Linked DNA regions of Homo sapiens: region 1 is linked to region 2. The links come from fine-mapping of genetic effects on plasma protein levels. Region 2 holds a variant in brackets. A gene starts in the other region. All regions are shown on their reverse strands.

What was found. PIP is the chance, under the fine-mapping model, that this variant and not a neighbour inherited with it causes the effect. Protein levels are from antibody-based Olink assays in UK Biobank. Linkage for the fine-mapping came from a reference panel and not from the study's own genotypes, which makes the PIPs less certain.
Region 1: it holds the start of VEGFA, and the variant in region 2 is fine-mapped to the plasma level of the VEGFA protein (UK Biobank, PIP above 0.99).

What each region holds. Positions count from the first base shown.
Region 1 is chr6:43,765,202-43,773,499 of GRCh38, reverse strand. It overlaps VEGFA (vascular endothelial growth factor A), which reads right to left and starts at 3,289. Exons shown (of 8, transcript NM_003376.6): 1 at 2,188-3,289. The coding sequence starts at 2,793. RefSeq lists enhancers at 1-566, 567-1,332, 1,333-2,098, 2,099-2,864, 8,227-8,298 and silencers at 1,320-1,839, 1,910-2,849, 3,227-3,476.
Region 2 is chr9:2,691,415-2,699,740 of GRCh38, reverse strand. LOC105375957 (a long non-coding RNA gene) reads left to right here and starts at 5,280. Exons shown (of 3, transcript XR_929436.3): 1 at 5,280-8,326. The variant A/G (reference allele first, on the strand shown) is at 4,827.

The sequences.
Region 1 (8,298 bases), not on the chromosome of region 2:
CCTTAGGCCTGAGGCCTCCTCTAACCCTCCCCACCCGCATCAGATCATTCCTCCCCTCGCCAGAAGCTGTGAAGGTCAACACGCCAAGACATGCGGACCTGACAGCACCCAAAAGGAAAGGCTTCTGCCAGCCCTTCCTGGGGGTCTCCAGCTCTCACCAACTCCCCTCCCGCCCAGCACTCGCAGAGCAGAGGGGCACTCTAGCCTACGGAACACCAGACCCTGCTAGGGGAGAGTCCCACTGTCCATCTTTCTTTCCCTCTCCTTCCCACACACCCCAAATGCACCCCACTCAGGTACCCCAGCCCTGCTCCCAGAGACAGCCAAGGTCACAGGAAGCCCCTCTCAAGAGAAAACAACAGTTACCAGGCTTCCAGCTGGACAGCTTACCACTGCGGCTCCTGCAGGGACCCCCTGGATTCTGCACCTCAGCCCCCTCACCCATTCCCATGACACCCCCTGCCTTCCCCCTGACAATATTCTCCCGGGACCCTCCACTCCTCCTGGGCCCCAAGGAGGAAAGGGGACGGAAATTTCATACCCCTTCCAAGGCCAGGGAGCACAGGAGGGGCGGTTCTAGGCAGGCAGGGGCCAGGTGTCCTTCTCTGGGGGCCTCTGAAGGTCACACTGTGGCCAGGCAGCCACTCCTCCCCCTCCTCCCTACTTGGAGGCCTGTAGCCAAGGCCTTTGTGCCAGGGTCTGAGGAACTTGCGGTGTTAGCAGCGACCCCTGTCCATGGCTTTCCTCTTGCCTCCTCTCCAAGGGAATTCTGGCTGAGGGAAGGCGTCAGAGAGGAGCGGAAAGGGACCCTTTAGAGTCCCTTTCAGAAGCAAGTTGGGTGGGCAGGTTTGGAGTTCCAAAAAAACACCTGCTCCAGGGCTGCCTTTCACCAGGACAAAGTGTGTGCAAGGCTGGCAGGAGCTCCTTTCCAGGGTTCAGGAAGGACTATTCCCATGCTGCCCGTGTCACAGCAAATTTCAAGCCATTTCTCCAAAAGGGTAAAGTGGGGCAATGACTCTTCAAATCCTCCCTTGACCCACCCCCACGAGAGCTAAAGCACAGCTCACTCGGAACTGTTGGCGAGGGAAGGGAAGCACACTGTCACCAAGTCGGGACTTTCGGTGGAATGTGACAAAGCGCCCAGTGGGCTCCCGCGCCACGACTTCTGACAGTGATCATCCTTTCCCTGGACTCTGGGGCCAGAAAGGGGTTAGATGGATCTTCTCCGCAGAGAGAAATGAAAATAAGCGGGGTGACAGGGGCTTCTCTCCAGGCTAAAAAGGAAATGGGTGAAGAGAAGGGGCGTCAGGAAATTCCTCCTAGCACTGGGCAGAGGTAGGGTCTGGAGACAGTAGGAAGGGGTAGGGATGGTTCTCTGGATCCCCGGGCTGGGGCTACCTCGAGAGGTCACCTTCCCGCGGAGGGCTGGCGGGGGGAGGGGTGCCGCTCGCCACTCTGGGCTCCCCATTCGGGCAGCCGAGGCTCCGGGAACACGCGGCCGGCCAGGCCCGGGCTGATGTAATCGGCTCCGCGCCGCGCGCACCCGGCCGGGCGGGGGAGGGCGGGCACCGAGCGGGACGCGAGCGGGGACGGGCGGGGTTGGCGCGGCGCAGGTGGCCCAGCAGGGAGGGGGGGTCCCCGCAGCAATCCACCCCAAAACTTTTCCCAAACTCGCGGCGAGGGCTGAAGAGACCGAGTGGCAGTGACAGCAAGCCCCCTCTCCCTCCTGCGCCCTGCCCCCTCCACGCTCTCTGCCCTCCCGCGGTCCAAGGTCCGAGCACCCCCTGCCCACTGGTCTCTGGCTCCCGCCCCCGCTGCTCAGACTTCCAGTTCGTCCGGGACCAGCGGCCGGGAGCAAACTTCAGCCGGCAGCGGCAACGCAAGCCCAGCCCCCTCGGCCTCCTCCTCCGGCTCCCGCCCTCGGCTGGTCGGCCCAGATCGTACGTGCGGTGACTCCGGTGGGTGGGCAGGGCCCGCGTGGGCGGTGAGCCTCTCTCCGGGTACCCTCCCACCTAGCGCGCGCGCCCCCTCCCCCTGCACCTAAGACGACAGAGGGGGACGCCGCACGCCTGGTGCCCATGGACCCGCGTGGGGCACGGAGCCCCCACGCGCGCGCTCGCACGCACGTCCCCAGCCGGGAGAGGCGCTCGCAGCGGCCCGCGGCGCCAGCAGGGCACGACCGCTTACCTTGGCATGGTGGAGGTAGAGCAGCAAGGCAAGGCTCCAATGCACCCAAGACAGCAGAAAGTTCATGGTTTCGGAGGCCCGACCGGGGCCGGCGCGGCTCGCGCTCCCTCTCCGGCTCGGGCTGTGGGGCGGCCCGCTCTCCTCGGCGCCTCGGCGAGCTACTCTTCCTCCCCGGCCCGAGGCCCGGGCCAGGGCCTGGGGAGCGCGCGCGGCTGGAGCACTGTCTGCGCACACCGCCGCCTCACCCGTCCATGAGCCCGGCTTCCGAGCGCCGAGTCGCCACTGCGGCCCCCTCTCCTCTTCCTTCTCTTCTTCCTCCTCCCCCTCCTCCGGCTGCGGCTCCTCCCGGCCCGAGCTAGCACTTCTCGCGGCTCCGCTCGGCTCGGCTTCCCCCGCGCGGACCACGGCTCCTCCGAAGCGAGAACAGCCCAGAAGTTGGACGAAAAGTTTCAGTGCGACGCCGCGAGCCCCGACCCCCTCCACCCCGCCTCCGGGCGCGGGCTCCGGCCCCTGCCCGCGGCTCGCCGCCGCGTCCACTGTCCGCCGCCGGCCGGGGAGGAGGTGGTAGCTGGGGCTGGGGGCGGTGTCTGTCTGTCTGTCCGTCAGCGCGACTGGTCAGCTGCGGGATCCCAAGGGGGAGGGCTCACGCCGCGCTCCGGCGGTCACCCCCAAAAGCAGGTCACTCACTTTGCCCCTGTCGCTTTCGCTGCTCGCACGCCCGCGCGCTCTCTCTGACCCCGTCTCTCTCTTCCTCGACTTCTCTCTGGAGCTCTTGCTACCTCTTTCCTCTTTCTGCTGGTTTCCAAAATCCACAGTGATTTGGGGAAGTAGAGCAATCTCCCCAAGCCGTCGGCCCGATTCAAGTGGGGAATGGCAAGCAAAAATAAATTAAAACGAGAAACAATACAGTTTTAAAAAAAAATGTTTAAGAAAAAAGAAGAGGGATAAAACCCGGATCAATGAATATCAAATTCCAGCACCGAGCGCCCTGGCCGGTGAGTCCGCTGACCGGTCCACCTAACCGCTGCGCCTCCCGACAGAGCGCTGGTGCTAGCCCCCAGCGCCACGACCTCCGAGCTACCCGGCTGCCCCAAGCCTCCGCGATCCTCCCCGCTACCAGCCGACTTTTAAAAAAAAAAGGGGGGGGCGCATGGCTCCGCCCCGCCGGGACCCCGCCCCCGGCCCGCCCCGGGGGGCGGGGACAGGCGAGCCTCAGCCCTTCCACACGCGGCTCGGGCCCGGGCTCTGCGGACGCTCAGTGAAGCCTGGCCCGCAGCCCGCCGCAATGAAGGGGAAGCTCGACCCCCACCAAGGTTCACAGCCTGAAAATTACCCATCCGCCCCCGGAAACTCTGTCCAGAGACACGCGCCCGCGGGGCATTGGCGAGGAGGGAGCAGGAAAGTGAGGTTACGTGCGGACAGGGCCTGAGAGCCGTTCCCTCTTTGCTAGGAATATTGAAGGGGGCAGGGGAAGGCGGAGAGCCGGACAGGGACGGGTGGGGAGAGGGACACACAGATCTATTGGAATCCTGGAGTGACCCCTGGCCTTCTCCCCGCTCCAACGCCCTCAACCCCACACGCACACACTCACTCACCCACACAGACACACACGTCCTCACTCTCGAAGACGCTGCTCGCTCCATTCACCCAGCTTCCCTGTGGTGGCCGAGCGCCCCCTAGTGACTGCCGTCTGCACACCCCGGCTCTGGCTAAAGAGGGAATGGGCTTTGGAAAGGGGGTGGGGGGAGTTTGCTCCTGGACCCCCTATTTCTGACCTCCCAAACAGCTACATATTTGGGACTGGAGTTGCTTCATGTACAGAGAGCCCAGGGCTGGGCACAGGGGCCACAGTGTGTCCCTCTGACAATGTGCCATCTGGAGCCCTCATCTGGCCTGCAGACATCAAAGTGAGCGGCAGCCAACAGGCTGGAGTGACTGGGGTCCTTTGGGAAGTGTCCAGGGATGCTTCCCAGGGGAGAAGAATTTGGCACCAAGTTTGTGGAGCTGAGAACGGGAAGCTGTGTGGTTCCGGGGTTAGTCAGTGACTGGGAGGGAAGAGGACCTGTTGGAGCCCACGTATGCACTGTGGAGTCTGGCAAAACCCAAAGGGGGAGGCAGCTGGGCAGACAGAGGCCCTTGTTCCTGCTGCCCCCCCAACCCCAGATGTTGCCAGGGAACTGAGGCCAGGGGGCTGGTGGGGGCGGGTGGAGGCCAGGGCCTGCGTGATGATTCAAACCTACCCGCCAGCACTAAGGAACGTCTGTAGGCCAGCTGCCCAGAGCTCCCACCAGGCCAGGGGCCAAGGCTTCTATCAGCCCAAGCCCAGACTCATAGCTCATCTTCTGAATAGAAATGGGGGTTTCGTCTCAGCTCCCCCATTCCCTCAGGATCCCTTGGCTACTTCTCCAGGCTCACAGCTTCTCCCCTATCCTTCCCCCAGTCCCCTCCCTTACCTCCAAGCCCCCTTTTCCTCCAACTCTCCACATCTTCCCTAAGTGCTCCCAAAGGCCCCATCCCATTCTTGCATATAGGAAGCAGCTTGGAAAAATTCCTAGCTGGTTTCTGACCTGGCTATTTCCAGGCTGCCCCAGGGAACAAAGTTGGGGCTCTGAGGCCTGTGGGAAGAGTGGGACCAGTCAGTCTGATTATCCACCCAGATCTTGCCAGGGTCTGGCCTACAGCTGGCATAGCCTCTGTGGAGGCATGGACTGAGAATGGGAATGCAGCAATTTCCCTCAATTTAACCAAAACGCTCCAGGGAGCTTACCTAGTCAGCCCCATCCTCAGCACATGTTGCTGTGGTTTGGTGGAGGTGCTAGGTTACCTCCCCAGTACCCCCAGTTCCATCGGTATGGTGTCCTAAGGCCCTTATGAGGAAAAGGGCTGGCTCCCACCCACCCCAACCCTCCCTTTCCATCATTCGTGCACTAGTCCTGTCTCCACCACTTGGCAGGCTCCCCAGCAGCAGGGACAAGGTCTTTGTACAGTTAGTAAATGTTTATTTCCTGGCTCAGGGCCCCCTCCCAGGCAGGCCTCCTCACCTGGGCTCCATGCTCTAGGCTGATGAACGGGATATGGAAGGGAAGCCACTAACTTTCCTCCTTGTGCGCCTCTAGCACCCCAGGAGCACAAGCTGTAGACATCTTGGGGCAGGATGGAGGCTCTGAGCCCTAAGGGCTCATTCTGGCCCCCTCCCTTGCATCCCTTCTCAACTCGGCCTTCTTCAGCCCCTAAAAGAGCCAACAGACCTGAAAGAGCAGGTCTTAGTAAAAAACAAATAAACAAATCTGAAGCTAAGAGGAGGCTGGAGGGGTTCCAAGGAGGGATAGCCATCACCAGTCACTCCGTGGCCCCAGGCACCCCCCACCCCCATAAGCCAACTGTCCTCCATGGTGGTACCCAGCAAGGTGTGTTACAACAACCTGTTTGTGTTTCCCTCTGGGGCTTTGCCCAGGGATCCAGGGGAGTGAGGGCACAGAATTCCTTTTATATAAGGCTAGGATTACAACCTGGCCTAGGGGTTTTTGAGCTACCTTCATTAGGGCGAGAAAGTATGGCCCACCTCCCCCCTTCATTGTGGAGATATAACCTGGCTGTGACCTGGAGGGGTTAACTCTGGATCCCATGCCCCAGTGTGTTGTCACCGGCATTTACAACAATGTACTCTTAAGGACTCAGCCAGTGCCCACATTGTCACCAAATTAAAAGCTCAAGTCACCTAGTCACCTGAGCTTTCAAAAAAGGGGAAAAAGCACAAAACAACAATCACAAGACCACATGTATCTCTGTGGCATCTTCCCTTCCATGGGCTTAGCCCCCTGAACAACTTGACTTCACTTATCCTCACCTCCCTCCCCAGGCTGCTTGCTGCAGGGGAAGGGGCGTCAGAGCAGACTGTCTCCCCAAAGAATCCTCCGAAGGCCCAGAGAGGGCACAAAGGGGCCCAGGGTCACCTAGCAGATTGGGGGAAGGGGCAGTGAAGCAGAGAGCAGCCCACACAGAGGTCATGCTGGCTCCCAGTTGAGGGGCAAACTCGGCCCCGCTTGGAGGGCCTCACCTTGGGAGCGCAGTGGCCACTCCCCACAGTCTGTGGCTCTGAAGGCAGTTCAGAAGGAGCCAAGGAGGAAGGGGAAGGTGTTCCAGGTGAGGGGGAAGGGGAGAAAGGGGTGGGGGTGGAGAAAAGTGCGAAAGGCAGCCAGGAGCCAGCGGCGGCCCCAGACAAAGAAAGTAGTGATTGGGCCAAGGCACAATAGTTGTACTTTGTCCTGATGTCCTGTCACCTCCAATATTCAGGGAAACTCTCGCCTGTGTGGGTGTGGGTGGTTAATCTAGAAGCCGGTGGATGAAGGGACAAAATCTCTCCTGAGATTGGAAAGAAGGTGAGGAGAGAGTCACTGGGTCTTGCTGTTTTCCACACATTTCTCCAAGTGGCTTCACTGCAATGGAAGGAGGTCTTGTCCTTCACTCCATCCCCTGACCCCCAGGTGACTAGCAGGACACTGATCTGCAGGAAGGGCAGGATACAAACCTGGTGAATTGAAGGAGAGAGAATTGGGTTGGTTCCCCTCAATTCCCTGACCCTGACTGTGGGTCAATCTCTGTCTCTCTCTCTCTCTCTCTCTCCCCGCCTAGGTCTTTGCAACAAAGCATTAAAAAGACAAAGAGAAAGCAAAGGAAAGGGCCTCTTTGGTCCAGTGCCAATGTCCTAGCCCCATGTGGATCTGGAGGTTTGACTTGAGGTAATGATAAGTAATGATGGCCAACTGATAAAAAGATTGGAGCAGAGGAAGCCAAGGAGGGTAACTCTCCCAAGAGGATCCAGTCAGGAAAGGGGGAAGGAATGGGGAAGAGGACCTAGCTGGAGAGAGGGCAGGGCAGAGTCACTGTCTGGGGAAGCTCACCTACCCACACCACCCCTAGGCCCATCAGCCTCTGCCTCTCCTTCATGGGCCCCAGTCTAATCCCCTGACACTAAGCTGTCCCTGATGAATTGCATCTCCCCAACACCCCCAGGCATGCTCACCTTCTGACACTCCAATCTCTGCTATTCCTCCAAGTCTGACCCCAAAACATGCCCATTTCTGCCCCTGTTCACATCCTCCACCCCTACCCTGTCTTGGAGGGAGTCCTTCTGCTGGGAAGAAGGTATGGCATGTGGTGGCAACTAAGGTCCCAAAGCTGTATCTGCCCTTTTGACCTGGGCCTTGCCTGAGAGCTGAGCTAAGCTCCAATTTGTGAATATTTGTAGGGACTACCAGGCACCAGGCTCCATGCTGATTTTATAGGAGGTACAGGGACATCTAGGTAGGGCAGTGGAAAGTACAGGGACTTTGGATTCAAATGGACCCAAGTCACATTCCTGGCTCTGCCACTCACTGTGTGGCCTTAGGTTATTCAACCTCTCTGAGCCACAGCTCCCCTCATCAAAAATAGGAGTAAAAATCCCTGCCTTAGAGAGTTGCTGCACACAGACAAATGTGCACACAGCTGCCCCAGAAAGCAAGATGAGAAAGAGGCCCTGGGGGAGGCACAAGTGTTGTGAAGGTATGGAAGCAAAGAGCCAGACTGGCTAGAATGGGCATCTGGAAGGGCTTCCTGCAGGAGGTGGCTTGGGACATGTATTCCACAAGCAATTATTAAACTCAGCTTGTGATCTCTGCTTTGTGTTGCACCCTGGGACTACAACAGTGTCAGTGGGGGCTTCCTGTCTGGAGGTAAACCAAAGAGTAAACCAAAAATGGGAATTCTCTGAGGAGCATTTAATTGCTGGGAGTAGGGGAAGGCTTCCTGGAGATGATACTTGAGTTGGGTCTTTTTTTTTTTTTTTTTTTTTTGAGATAGGGTCTCACTCTGTCGCCCAGACTGGAGTGCAGTGGCGCCATGTCGGCTCACTGCAACCCCTGCCTCCCAGGTTCGAGCAATTCTCCTGCCTCAGCCTCCGGAGTAGCTGGGACTGCAGGTGCCTGCCACCACACCTGGCTAATTTTTGTGTTTTTAGTAGAGATGGTGTTTCACCATGTTGCCCAGGCTGGTCTCGAACTCCTGACCTCAAGTGATCGGCCCACCTCTGCCTCCCAGAGTGCTGGGATTACAGGCGTGAGCCACCGTGCC
Region 2 (8,326 bases):
GGGATACATATTGGTGCATATAACTTCATAAAGTACTACGTGACAATGCATAATGTAGTGGCTTGGGAGCTCTAGAAGACAACAAAGGAGATTGTTGAAATGTGCTTTGCAAAATGGCTATGAATCCAGGAGGGTGTATTAGTGGTATCCCTACTGGTCCACCCCAGTATTTATTTAATATCAATGGGCCAGCTGTAGGAAGGTCTCATTATATAGTTGGTAACATGATGTCATCATGGTTGGATTCCACTTGCCATATAAGATTCCGGAAGGCAGGGATGTTTAGTTAGTAAATTTTGAGCTAAGTAGTAACAGATCAGTTTTTCCTATTTTATGTTGGGGGATGAAGATACAACAAATGACTATTGCTACATGGAAGAAAGCAATCTGAACAGGAGCTGAGAATTTCTGGGTTCCAAATTCAACATCATTTTCTTGGGTGACGGTCATCAAGATAAGAATAGGCGCTCAACCAAGAAAGAGCACCCAGATAGCAAGTTTTGTGCTGAACACTGAGATCCAGGCTTAGCCCTCTTTGATAAGAACAGAAGCTTAGCAAAGAGGGCTGAAGTCTCATAGTTGCCAAAAGCACTTTTCAAAGCTATTTTCTCATTTAAGCCTTACAACAGCCCTGTGATGTCAGTGTTTGAAATCCTCATTTGGCTTGGGAGGAAGGAAGACACAGGGCCATAAAGTGGCAGGGTTGGGAATGGATTCTTGGGCCCAGGATTTTCCCTGTATGAAATGGCCTCTGTCAAAAATAAGGTGAGGTTTTGATGGTAGTATGATAGTATAAAGCCCAGGGGGCCTAGAAATACTGAAATCTTACCTCCCCAATGAGGTGGATACATTTACCTGGTGACACAGGACAACAAGAATAAAAATAATTAAAATTAAAAATTTTAAAAAAGCAAAAGATTTTTTTTTCTCTTTCTTTCATTCCTTTTTTTTTTTTTTTTTTTTAATTTAGAAATGGAGTCTCACAGTATCAACCAGGCTGGAGTCCAGTGTGTAATCATAGCTCATGGCAACCTTGAATTCCTGGGCTCAAGCAATCCTCCTGTCTCAGCCTCCCAAGTTGCTAGGACTACAGGCATGTGCCACTATATCTGGCTAATTTTTTTTTTTAATTTTTGTAAAGTTGGGATCTTGCTATGTTGCCCATCTGGCCTTGAACTCCTGGACTCAAACATTCTTCCCTCCTTGGCCTCCCAAAGTGCTGGGATTACAGCCGTGAGCCACCATACCTAGCCTCAAATCTGAAATTCTGAGTTAGCAGTCCAGGATGGGGCTAGAGAATTTGCATCCTCATGGACCACAATAGCAAGCAGCACTGACCTACAGGATATAGCCTAGGCTTTTTAACCTCATCGAATGGACTTCCATACCTAATTTTTTACTGTCTCTTTAGCATCATTACATGCCATCAGGTCACTTTTCACTTCATGTAGCACGTGTAGCATGGTGTTTGGGGAGTACTACAAAAATTTTGTTTCAAGGCTCTATCTGCTGTTTTTCTTAAACCTCTTCCTAATTTCTCCCAAAGGAGAGAAAGTTGCTGTGAGTTGAACTGACTCTGGAATAGTTTTTGGGCTATATTTGCCATATATGTGGAAAGATTAATGATTGAAAGTGTCATCTCTCTCTTGTTTATTCTGCACTGATGGGCTAGGACCCACTTCACTGCTCAAGGACCTCTGGCCTGCTTGTTCTGTCTCATTCTCACCTCTCTTCCACCCAAGTGTCAGAAGTGGTAGCATAACCATTGGGAAGAGTAGGCCTGACTCCTTCATTATCGGTCTCTCAGTGGCTCTCCATGTTTCTGTGTGTCTCTGTCTTTCTTGTTCACTTCTGAGGCAGGAGGATCACTTGAGCCAAGCAGGTCAAGGCTGCAGTGAGCTGTGATTGCACCACTGCACCCCAGCCTGTCTCAAAAACAAAAACAAAAAACGAACCTGGGGCCTGGGAAATTGTGTGTTAATTCCCTTGAGGTGACTTTTGCATTGGCTACAGTATGAGAACCACTGGACTGGTTCACCAGAAGGGACTGAAAGGTTTCAGGGAAGGATGGGGCATATTTGGTATTTTCAGGGTGGTTATACAGCCTATCACCCCTTCACCTGATGGCTTCCATCTCCTCAACCCACCAGCCAGGGTTGGGCTTTCAGCCGCTGTTTTAATTTGCCTAATATGGCCTGTACGACTGTAGCTGATTGGGCCATGTGAAGACACCTAACCCAAGCTAGGCCAATCAGATGATCACTCCCACATTCCCTGGTTTGCAGGAAGTCCAATTTGTTTCATTCACTTACCTCAGAACCAGTTGGGTTGTCCTTCTATGCCTACTATGTCTACTATGTCTACTTCTTTATTTTTCTATTTATGTCTTCCTTACGTGGGTTTCTTCTTTTCCTTGGACCTCTATCTGACCTACCCTTGCCTGGTTTTTCTCTTGTCTCTCTCTCTTGCCTTATTATTCCCTTTTCTGCTTTCACTCAACCCTGTCTTCTTCATTTAGCCTATGAAAATATAAAATGAAATTATTGTATACCTCTAGAAGTTGTATATTTATGGAATAAAGTTTTATGTTCCTTGCTCTGAATTTAAAAGCAGTGTAACTTAAATTACATAATTGTAATGATCATTCCTATAATAGAATCTATGCAACCTTAAAAATAAAAGGTGAGCCCAATCAATGCCTATTTCCATTTTTCAGATTTTAATTAACATCACCTAAACTGGGGATTAAGTAACTTGTGGCCTTTGAATCTGCTTTTTATACCTATTACTGCAGTTTTCTTCATTACAGATGATCCCCCAAACACCAATTTCCCATTGGCTCCAGTTGTTCAAGGTAGTAAAACTGCACATAAAAGAGCTTTTAAAAAATAGCCTAAATCTGGAATGTAATCAAGTGTACCACAAACATAGTTGCCTCATCAACAACAAATACTGTTTATATCCCCTATGGATTGAGAGTCCCTGATACGTGCATCAGGAACCGTCTCTGAGTAGTACATCCTCATTCTTCTCTGGTTCCCTGGTGGTCTATCATCTATTCAATCCAATTTAGTTGAACAAACATTCATTATGCACCTATTAAGTGTTAGGGATTTTCAGATAGTGTGCTACCACTTTTAAATAACAGAGAAGCTTCCCATTAGCGCACACATTGCCCAACTCCGCTAGCTGAGCCTGGTGAGTATAAATAAATGGAGATACAGGTTGAGTATCCCTTATCTGAAATGCTTAGAAGCAGAAGTATTTTGAGTTTTGAATTTTTTTCAGATTTTGGAATATTTACATTATACTTACAGGTTGAGCATCCCAAATCTGCAAATCCCAAATGTGAAATGAGTATTTCCTTGGAGCATCATGTCAGTGCTCAAACAGTTTCAGATTTTGGAACATTTTGGAGTTTTGATTTTTGAATTTGGGGTACTCAAGTTGTATTAGCATTGGGCAAAGGAAAGTTAATGAACGTAGGCTGAGCACCACAGTGGGCTCTGTGCCAAACAGTACAGTCATACAGGCCATATTAGGCAAATTAAAACACAGCTGCTGAAAGCCCACCCCTGGCCGGTGGGTTGAGCCGATGGAAGCCATCAGATGAAGGGGTGATAGGCTGTATAACCACCCCCAAAATACCAAGCTAGGTGCTTTTGGTGTATTAGAGTTTAATTATCACAACAATTTTTGAGCTTAGGTGTTATTGTCACCCTTTTTACTGATGGAGAAACGGAGGCTTTAATAAGTTAAATGAATTGCAAAACAAGTCGTAATTACTGTTTATTTTTTGGTGTATTTTTTTATTGTGGTAAAATACGTATAATGTAAGCATAATATATAACCTAACATAACATTTGGCCACGTGCGGTGGCTCATGCCTGTAATCCCAGCACTTTGGGAGGTCGAGGCAGGTGGACCCCTTGAGGTTAGGAGTCAGAGACCAGCCTGGCCAACACGGTGAAACTCCGTCTCTACTAAAAATACAAAAATTAGGCGGCGTGATGGTACGTGCTTGTAATCCCAGCTAGTCAGGAGACTGAGGCAGGAGAATTGCTTGAACCTTTTGAACAACAACAACAAATGTAACATTTAACCATTTTTAACTGTACAATGCAGTGACATGAAATATATCCATGATGTAGTATAATCATTACTACTATTTCCAAAATTTTAAATTATCCTACACAGAAACTCTATACCCATTAAACAATAATTTCCCACTACTCCCACCTCACCCACCTTGGTAGCCTCTATTCTACTTTCTGGTCACTATTGTTTCTAATGATACTTAGCTGGCATTACTGGGAAGCAGCAGAATGTGGTGATGTGAATGACGGCTCTAACACCAGAAGCCAAAGTTCAAAACTTGACTTCTTTAGGCCTAAAATTTATTTTTGTAAATCTAGCACACTAATTGCAATTTCTTTTTCCATTTCAAGCAGAAGAGGCAAGGTCTCAGCTGTATTTTGGTCAGAAAAGCTAGATAACTTCATACATAGGAAATGACTAGTTGGCTTCAGAATATAGAACTCAGGAAGACATTTCTGATGGAAATTACAAGGATATATTAATAGTGGTGCAGTCCGGGCGCGGTGGCTCACGCCTGTAATCCCAGCACTTTGGGAGGCCGAGGCGGGCGGATCACGAGGTCAGGAGATCGAGACCATCCTGGCTAACACGGTGAAACCCCGTCTCTACTAAAAATACAAAAAGTTAGCCGGGCGTGGTGGCGGGCGCCTGTAGTCCCAGCTACTCGGGAGGCTGAGGCAGGAGAATGGCGTGAACCCGGGAGGCAGAGCTTGCAGTGAGCCAAGATC[A/G]TGCCACTGCCCTCCAGCCTGGGCGACAGAGCCAGACTCCGTCTCAAAAAAAAAAAAAAAAAAAATAGTGGTGCAAAGAAGTTATGAGGGGCCAGGGAACCTTCTGATTTGTGGAAGGATCCCAAAGTGTAGGTTATAAGTCTGGTGCTGAAAAAGAAAAATCTTCTTTTTTTTTTTTTTAGATGGGGTTTCACTCTGTCGCCCAGGCTGGAGTGTCTCGGCTCACTGCAACCTCTGCCTCCCAGGCTCAAGTGATCCTTCCACCTCACCTCAGCCTCCCAAGTAGCTCGGACCACAGGCATACACCACCATGCCCAGATAATTTTTGTGTTTTTGGTACAGATGGGGTTTCACCATGTTGCCCAGGCTGGTCTCAAACTCCTGAGCCCAAGTGATCCGCCCGCCTCGGCCTCCCAAAGTGTTAGAATTACAGGCATAAGCCACAGCGCCCAGCCTTCAAAAAGAAAAATCTTAACTAGCAACAGAGACACACACACACACACACACACACACACACACGCACGCACAATTGATCCTTTTTATCTGGACAAGCCTGACTAATTATCTATGTACCTATCTATCTATGGACCAATGTGTAGCTTAAAATATTGGTACCCATTCTGCCTTGATCCGAGGGTAAAGAGCTCTCAGAGTTCTCAACAAAACAACTTGAAAGTAGCATTTCACTTGTCAGAGAGCGAGGATAACTGTACCTGAGGTAAACACACATCCAGTTCCCTTTGAGGTGCAGCTGAATAAGTGTAGCAACCAAACTATCTCCAAAGTAACAACTTTACACGACCCAGCAAGTTCACAGCAAAGTCATACAAGTCTAGGGAAATCACAGTGTTCCTTGAGAAGTGTCCCAGCCTGGGTCTTTGAAAGATGGACACACTTGTCATCTGCTAGAAGAAACCTTGGAGAAAAACAGGTCTAGGGGTGACAGCTGAGGCCAGCCCATATGAGCCAATTAATTTTGGTCTAATAGCTGTACCTGTCTGAACCAGGTTAATAGTATCTATTGCATAAAGCAGATCTGGGCATTAAATGAGGAAATTTATGTCAACAGTGCTCGGCCATTGCCTGGCACAAAGAAAACGGTCAAGAAATACGATTTCTCTTAATGGCAGTAGAAGCTGCTGTTTCTAAAGCATTTCCTATGTTGTCAAAATTATATATTTTTCTTCTTTACGTCTTGCAAAGGAAGCATTATCATCTTGGCTTTTTGTTTTGTGTGTGTGTGTGTGTGTGTGTGTGTGTGTGTGTGTACAGATGAGGAAACTCAATCTCAGAGAAGTTAAATAATGGCCCGAGGCGCAGCTGGAAAGTGGTGGGACTAGAATTTAAGGCAGGCCGTGTGGGCTTCCTCAGTCGGCCTGCTCACCAGCCTGCTTTCATCTTTCAACACTCACTGCCCAATCTGACCTTACATAGTGGGCTCTAAAAAATAAAGTCAACCCAGAAGCCAGATATTTATTTGTTAGTAAGGGATGAGGGGAGAATATCGGGGGAAAATACTTGAGGATGTGTCCTGGCTTTACCTATTCTCCTCTGGATGGGCAAAGTTATGGACTTATTTCTTCAGACTTTTGGCAGTTGTTTGTTCCCACCAAGGAGGGCAGTGTCACTACATCAGTGCCACCAACTCAGTGGAGGGAGACAGGTGGTGATGCTGAACAGTTTCAGTGACAACATAAATCACAGCTGTTCACCCCATCAGTATCAAAATGGGGATAGGCTAGAGAGCTAATCGGGTTACAGGGTTGTTCAAAGAAAGATATTTGGAGGCAAATAGTTTCTGTGGAGACTATCTTATCCTCCATGACCTTGCTGGTGTATTCCGGTGTCCCTCCTAGCAGAGGGGTGTGGAGTTTGGGACCATAGATTTTGTAACATTTAATTCAACTCTGAAGCATGAATTCGCATTTAAAATAAAAGCAGTTTGGGGCTAGGTGTGGTGGCTCATGCCTGTAATCCCAGCACTTTAGGAGGCTGAGGAGGGCAAATCACTTGAGGTCAGGAGTTTGAGGCCAGCCTGGCCAACATGGTGAAACCCCATGTCTACTAAAAATACAAAAATTAGCTGGGAGTGATGAGTCACACTTGTAATCCCAGCTACTTGGGAGGCTGAGGCAGGAGAATCGCTTGTACCTGGGAGGCAGAGGTTGCAGTGAGCTGAGATTGCACCACTGCACTGCAGCCTGAGTGATAGAGTGAGACTCCATCTCAAAAATAAATAAACGAAATTAAATCACATTAAAGCAGTTTGGACTATAAGGTCTTAAAAGTTTTGTGCCTCAAAACTTTGGTGATGCCGTCTTTCCCAGTGGCGCTTGTCTTGTCCTTTTGGCTGACCTATTTTCTTTTCTCCTTTTACTGTGGCCACTCTCTAAGATTCCTTGTTTCTAGGGTCCTTCATTTCTCATAGCTTTGGGGAATTCAAGCCCTTGAAGTGTCACCTCAGGATTGGGTTGCCCTGAATGCCTCCCAACCCATCCTCCTCTCCTCAGTCCTTTCCTAAACTCATCTGCCTTGAATGCAACAACCAGAATTTTCTTACTTTCAACCTTTTACTCAATAGTTTCCAATTATTTTCTCCTTCTCAAGCTTAAGCCTTCTCAAATTGGATCTGACATCCACTTTTATTCAAATAATGTTTTTATCTTATGAAAAAAAGAGATCCATTTAGAATAATAATTGGGGCAACCTCAGTCAACTGAACTTGGAATGAGTATAACCTTCAGGGATAGCAGCCAATCATGAAACATTGCATGGATGGGGTAGCACAGAAAAGCAAAAGTCAACTTGAAAGGATTGCAGTAAAGGCAAGAGGGGAATTTACTTGATAATATAGCAAACTCAATGTTGAAGTGACTATAACATCAGGAGTTATTATTGGAAAGAAGATAATAGGTAGCACTGAAAATGTCATGGGCCCTATGTTTCTTCCTAACCAATGATTCGTTTTTCACTGGACTTACAACAGGAAGTAATTCATCCTGTTATAAAGAATGTAACATTTCCTTCCATTCACATAGCAGGCTGGAGTTTGGTGATTTTACTGGAAATGATGTTTTTTTTCCTTGGAGAGAATTCTGTTTCTATGAAGCACATACAGCTGCTGAAACCAATCTGAAACAGGTTAGAGAGGAAGAGAGGCTCAGCGGCATACAGGATAGCATGAGTTTAACTGGGAACATGTCAGAAGCAGCCAGCAACTTTTTTTTTTAAACAGGGAATATTGAGAGTAAGCAAAGCCTGCTTTTACAGAATTCAACTGATGCATTCCCAGTTAAAGATATTGAGATGGTATGTTAGCAAAGTCTATGAACTTCTTCTGTTAAGTAACTAGAACAGAGAGGAGAGATTTGGACATGTCAGCCAGAAAATGTGGCTCCTATGGAAGAGAGTGAAGGTAAGGTCAGAAGACTATTCCCAGTCCCACTGTGTGTGTTCTTACCTCTGCCTTAGTGATGATGGAATTACATAGCTATTGTGAG